Linked DNA regions of Homo sapiens: region 2 is linked to region 1. Evidence: fine-mapped QTL for protein levels in blood plasma. A gene starts in region 1. The other region holds a variant in brackets. All regions are shown on one strand. Distances are from middle to middle.

Region 1 (2,887 bases):
GGGGGCGGTCAGGGGGCCCTTACAAGAACCTCAGGCTGGGGGCATCGGGAGATCCACCAAGGGCAAGGGGCTGTCTGTGGGTTCTGTTCCTCCTGGAGGGGCAGGGGTCCAGAGCCCGACTGCCTCCTCCCACCACTCCGCCCCCCGCGGCAAGGCATGGCCACAGACCCCCCTCACCCAGATGCACGGATCCTTCTTGCTCAGAATCCCCAGGACCATGGGCATTTCTGCGCTGAGTCCCCATCTGAGTAGCCCTCCACCCGCACTCCCACTCCCCTGGTTTCAGAGGAGCCCCCCAGAGCAGGAACCTAGTCTGTTTTGTTCTTGCCCACTGGGTCCCTGGCACGCGGTACAGACCGAGGTTGGTTCCCACACGTGGAAAGGTGAAGCTTGGGTTCCAAGAGTTCCTTAGCACACGGAGCCCACCGTTCCACCCACCCGTACACTTCTGTCCCCAAAGCTCCTCCGGGACCACAGGGAGGGAAGAGGCAGAGCCGCAGGCGGCTGCAGGGCTTAGGGGGCGCCAAGAGGGCCGCTGTTCTTACAAAGAAATGACACGGCCCCTGGGCGGGATCCAACGCGCCGACCACCTGCAGCTGGACTCGCGGCACGAGGCTGCCCAAGCGCCAGGCGGGGGCCGGCGCGTACAAGTTCTTCGACAGGAATCTCTACGAGGCGGCGGCGTTCCGCCCGCGGATAAGTGCCCAGCTCCCTCCCCACCCCTCCGCACTACCCCCCGAGGGGGTCAGCTTATAAAACCCACCTAGGCTGCCTTTGCTGGAGACCCTACGAGAATCCCCGGGCAGGACCGGAGACGCCTCCCAGAGAGGTCTGTACAGAGCAGAAGGGGTCCGCGGCCACCGTCAGCGGCGCCCCGAAAGCCCGGCCACGCCGAGCCCCACAGCGCCCCGACAGCCGGCCCCGGGGCTGGGACTCCCGGCCTGCAGGCGCGCTGGGCCGAGCGGCGGGCAGAAGACGCCCAGCTCCAGCCGTGGCCCGGGAGGAGCGCCCCGAGCCCGCAGCCCGGCGAGATCAGCTCCGCAGGGAAGAAGCCGGCGTGCGGGGGGCGGGGAGGGGCGGAGGACGACCGAGCGGGGCGGAGGAGACCCTGGCGAGGGAGTGCGGCGCGGGGCTTGGAGGCGAGGGCCGTGGGGTTGCAGAGGAGCCGCAGCGCAGGGAGCCATTCGGGGCCCGGGCGGCGGGGCGCAGGCGGCAGGATCCCGCGCCGGGGGCGAGTAGCCGCGTCGGGAAGACCAGGGTCCGGAGCCCAAAGCCCGGCCAGGCCCGGGTTCCCGGCGCCGCGCCCTCACTCACCCGAGATCTCCGCCTGGGGCACGTCGCTCAGGCTGAAGCCCTTGGCTCCGTAGATCTGGCGGACCTCGCCGCAGCTCCGGCTCTTGCTGGCCGGGTCCCCGCGGGCGCAGGCGACCAGCGCTGCGGCCGCACATAGCAGCCACCAGCCTCGGGCCCGGAGCTCCATGGCGGGGCCGGCGGCGCCCCCGGCCACCCGCCCGCGCCTCTCTCGGATCCTGGCCGGGTCCTGCGCAGTTCCCGCCCGCGAAGGGCAGAGCCAAGGTCCCGGCGCGCGCGGCTCGCGGTCCAGAGGCGGCGGCGGCCGAGGAGGCGGAGACAACAAAAGCCGGCGGCGGCGGCGGCGCGGGGCGCGCGGGGTGCGAGGTCCGAACGCTCGCTCGGGCAGCCCAGAGCGCGGCGGGCTAGCGCAGTCCCGGCTCGGCGCCTCCCCCGCCGCCGGCCCGGCCCCTAGGCGGCCGCGGGAGAGGAGAGGGGCGGGGCAGGGTGGGAGCGCAGGGGTGGGGGAGGGACTGGGAGCACCGGGCGGGGCGGGGCGGGGCGCGGCGCGGGGGCGCGGGCCGGGGCGCACTGGGCGCTCCTCTGGCTCTTAGGGACCCAGAGGGCCCGCCTGGCCGCGCGACTCTATCGATCCCCGGCGGGAGGCGGCGGAGCCGGGCAGCGCGGGGCCGCGGCCGGGGTCCCCGAGGGCGGCCCCCCACGCCCAGCGCCCAGGGCGGTGGCACCACCTGTGGGGGCGGGGACGGGGGCGGAGGGTGCGCGAGGCAGGGCTTCCCCCGCCGGACGTGACATCACGCCTCCCGCGCCCCAATCAGGGGCCTCCCCGCCCCCAGCCGAAATCGGCATCCCGCTCCCCGCTCCCTCCCGCGCGCTCCGGCTTCCTGCACCCTGGCAGCGCGCCCCGAGAACGCTCTCCCGGCGCCTCCGTACCCTCCGCCCGCCGGCCGCGCCTCGAGCCGCCGCCCCTCTCCCCGCCTGCACCCCGCAGCGGCTCCCTCCCCGCGCCCTTCCAGCCGTCTCGCGCTGGGCTCCGGCTCGCACCGGGGGCTTTTGTGGTGTGGGGGCTGCACGCAGGAAACTCGCCAAGAAACTCGACCTCACCTCTCCCAGTCCCAGGGAGCGGCAACAGATGGCTTAATTGTTGGACCTTGACAGCTGTTTTGGGGGGGTGACCCTCCACGTTCTTTGGATGCTGGAGAAACCAAAGTGATGGGGCAGGGCCGGTCTACTGGTTTGGGCTGCTGGGTGGGGCCAGATGACCTCTGGAGAAGGGATAGGGTTGGAACCCGGCGACTAGTTAGGCCACTGGGGGAGGAGGGTGGAGTGAGCCGGAGCAGATGCCTCTTTGAAGAAGGCGGGAGGGCTGCCTGCACCTTGTATGGTAGGAGGGCGCGTGGCTTTAGCTGCACATGGGGAGTTGGGCTGGATGGGGTCTGTAGGGAGGGGGCGAGGACTGCGATGTTGGTGTCTGGAGGGCTTCACTCCTTCCTTGGCTCCCAGACCCCCCACCCCGGCCCCCTGTTCTCCACATGGTAAGGCCTGGCGGTGAAGCCAGGTGCCTGAGCTGCAGAATTGG
Region 2 (2,887 bases), 31 kb before region 1:
GGGTGGGGTCTGAGCGCCACCCCTAGGCCGTCTGTGTGCAGCGGGAGTGCTGCTGTCCTGGCGCCCGGCATCACTGTGCCAGAGTCCCCAGCCCACCCTGGCACTGGCAGGGTTATTATGGGGTGGACTTGCCTGTGTTGGGGGCTCCTGATCCCAAAACATCTAAAGTCAGGTTCCAGAGAACAAGCCATGGGGACCTGACCAGCAACCGGGGACCTCCGTCCACTGTGCGGGACGGTGATGAAAAGCAAAGCAGCACTAAGCGGCCTCCTCAGGGTCAGTCGGTTCAGGACAGCTGCCCCCAGACCCTCCAAGTCCTCCTCCCCCTGCAGGACCCCTTCCCAACACCACACCACCCCTCCCCAGGGCCGCCTGGCAGCTGGGGCACAGGAGGGAAGGAGGGCCCGTCCAGGCCTGGGGCAGGGCCCTGATGGCCTCAGTGAGTGACAGGAGGTCACCAGGGTCCAAGGTGGGCCCTGCGGCCCTCCGAAGCCATCTGGGAGGAGCGAACAGCTCTCCATGAACAAGGACAGGAAGTGTCAGTAAATGGATGCATGTTTGGAAAAGCCCTTAACTATCCAGGTCCCCGTGCCCTGCAGCTGGCTGGGTCGGGAAGGGACCTAGGCATTCCCGTCTGCAGTGCGGGGTCTCACCAGCCACCAGCATCCCTGTGAGCAGGTGACAGCTGAGGGTCACTCTGAGCCCTGACCTGTGTCACCGTGAACAGGGAGGCCCTGGTTCCTGATCTGGGTGAGGATGGGAGCAGGCGGGTCCTGGCTGCTCCTCAGCCCTCGGGGTCCTCCAACAGCCCTGGACCCCAGCAAGGCCTGCCCTGTGAGCCCTGTGTGCGAGGGGCAGCCCACATTGGCAGAGCCCACGCTGCCTCCCTGGGCCTTTGGGCCCAGCTTCCCCTCCTCCAGCAGAAGCGCAGGTGGGTCAGTGGCCCCTCATCTGCGCATGGAGGGCCCCTCACTGCAGGTCTGTGGGAGGACAGTCCTCAGACTCCTCAGCAGTGGTGCTGTCTCAGGCGTCACCCTGCAGACGCTGGGGCCCCTCAAGGGCGCAGGGAGGTGGGGCCGGGCTCTGCAGCCTGCGCTGAGGGGAGGGCATCATGCATCATCTCAGAGGCTCTGCCAGACCCTGGATGGCGGACACCCAGACAGCCCGTGCGGGGCTTCTCTGGAGGCTGGGGGGTGGGCCAGGGCTGGCTGGTGGGCTCTGCTGGGAGTCCCAGTGGGAGGAGGCGGGGAGGAAGGCACAGGCTCGCTGTGGGCTCCAGCGGGTTGCTTTGAGGCCTCCTCTGTAGGCCTCGAGGGGCTGCTTCTGCGGCGGTGCAGGGAGCTGGGGGGAGGGCTAGGCAGCCGGAGGTGCCCCTGAGGTCCCTGAAATACATGGCTTTTGGGCACACTGGCTCCCAGCTGACCTGAGGACCTCATACAAAATTAAAAGGCAGAAAGGCAGGCGAGGCCAGGCCTGGGGCTGGGACCTCTGCGCCTGCCCCTGCTCAGAGCCGCCGGCCCTCCCTGTCCCACCCCAGGCCTCTCCAGGCTGAGGTGAATTAAATATCGTCTGTGTTGTATTTTTGGCAAAGTCAGTCCTTGGCCTCTGTCCCTGGGGCCTTGGGGCAGTTACCGCCACCGGGGCCTGGCTACTGTAAGGGCCAGGAAGAGGAGGAGGGGCAGGAGGAAGGTCGGGGGCTGGGGGCAGCTGGCAGCCGAGGTCTTCTGTCCTTCCTGCTCTGACAGGCCTGGGAGGGCATGGGTCAAGGGCGTCCGGGAGCTGGAGCTCTTCCTGCTGACCTTCCGGC[T/C]GCAGAGGTCATCCAGACAGCCATCACCGCTGCCCGAGCCGCTGCCGTCGTCACCTGGGAAGGAGAGGAGGCTCCGGCAGGCAGGTCCCCACAGGAGACCCCAGTGCAGCACCACCCTGTAAGGGCCCGTGCCAGGTGACCCCAACATCCTTTCGGTGTGGAATCCCAGGACCAGCAGCACCTGATCCCCGCTGACCCCTGAGGCTGGGAGACTCTCACTCCCTGGGGCTGCCTCCCTTGGTCCCTGGAGCCAAAGCCAACAGACATCCCGGCCAGGCCTCCAGGGCGCCGCAGAGGTGCAGGGCTCGGTGATCGTGCCTGGGCAGCACAGCGTCCTCAGACTCACTGTGGTGATGCCGGAGCAGAGGGCCCCTCGGGTGGGGGAACCCGGAGGGCAGTCACACCCCTGTGGCACCCCCACCAACCCTGGCCCCTTGGCCGCCCGGCCAGGCCCTGCCCTCACTGGCGTCCTGGAAGTCCACGTCGTTGCCGTTGTAGGCGCTGCGCAGCCGGTTGGTCATGATCTTCAGCTGCATGATCTGCTGCCGGATGGTCATGTCCGGCTTGGTGATGTCCACCTCCACCTCGGGGTTGTTGATCTGGTTGGCCAGGCCGTCACCCATGACCTCGGGGAGGTACCTGGGGGAAAGGCAGGCAGAGCCCAGGTCACTGCTCCAGCCCCTGCAAAGGGCCATCACCTGAGCAGGACACTCTCCCACGCTCTGAGCCTGAGATGCCCAGCAGCTTCCAGGGACCGAGCAGAGCCCACACAGGCCGCAGAGAAGTGGGGCTCAAGCCCTCCAGCAAGGGACGTGGCCCCGTGCAGACAGCACCTGGCCCAGGCACAGCCCAATGGAGGCGGCATGGGAGGGAGGGCTGTGCCAGCCAGGTGGGCACCTACCGGCCTCTGGCCATCCCGTTCCAGCAGCGGTCATCACTGGCAGTGCTCAGGGCCATCTTCTCACTGCACAGTGTCCCTGGGAGGCTGATCCAGAAGTCCTGGACGTCGCGGAGCTGGGCCTTGGCTTCGGAGACCTGTGGGGCAGCAGTCAGGCCACTGGGCTGCCAGGGCCCGCCCGC

Evidence for each region. PIP is the posterior inclusion probability: the model's chance that the variant is causal. The UK Biobank Pharma Proteomics Project read protein levels with antibody pairs (Olink). The fine-mapping took linkage between variants from a reference panel, not from the people measured, so its PIPs are less certain.
Region 2: its variant is fine-mapped to the plasma level of the GPC1 protein (UK Biobank, PIP above 0.99). The variant lies in the coding sequence of GPC1. If it changes the protein, the assay may bind it differently, which can mimic a change of level.

What each region holds. Positions count from the first base shown.
Region 1 is chr2:240,434,512-240,437,398 of GRCh38, reverse strand. It overlaps GPC1 (glypican 1), which reads right to left and starts at 1,736. Exons shown (of 9, transcript NM_002081.3): 1 at 1,315-1,736. The coding sequence starts at 1,480. RefSeq lists enhancers at 1-363, 2,097-2,673 and silencers at 1,488-1,547, 1,608-2,267.
Region 2 is chr2:240,465,032-240,467,918 of GRCh38, reverse strand. GPC1 (glypican 1) reads right to left here. Exons shown (of 9, transcript NM_002081.3): 7 at 2,709-2,842; 8 at 2,271-2,446; 9 at 1-1,861. The coding sequence ends at 1,629. Among named protein-coding and RNA genes, the nearest start is that of GPC1-AS1, 9.8 kb to the right of the region's middle. The variant T/C (reference allele first, on the strand shown) is at 1,808.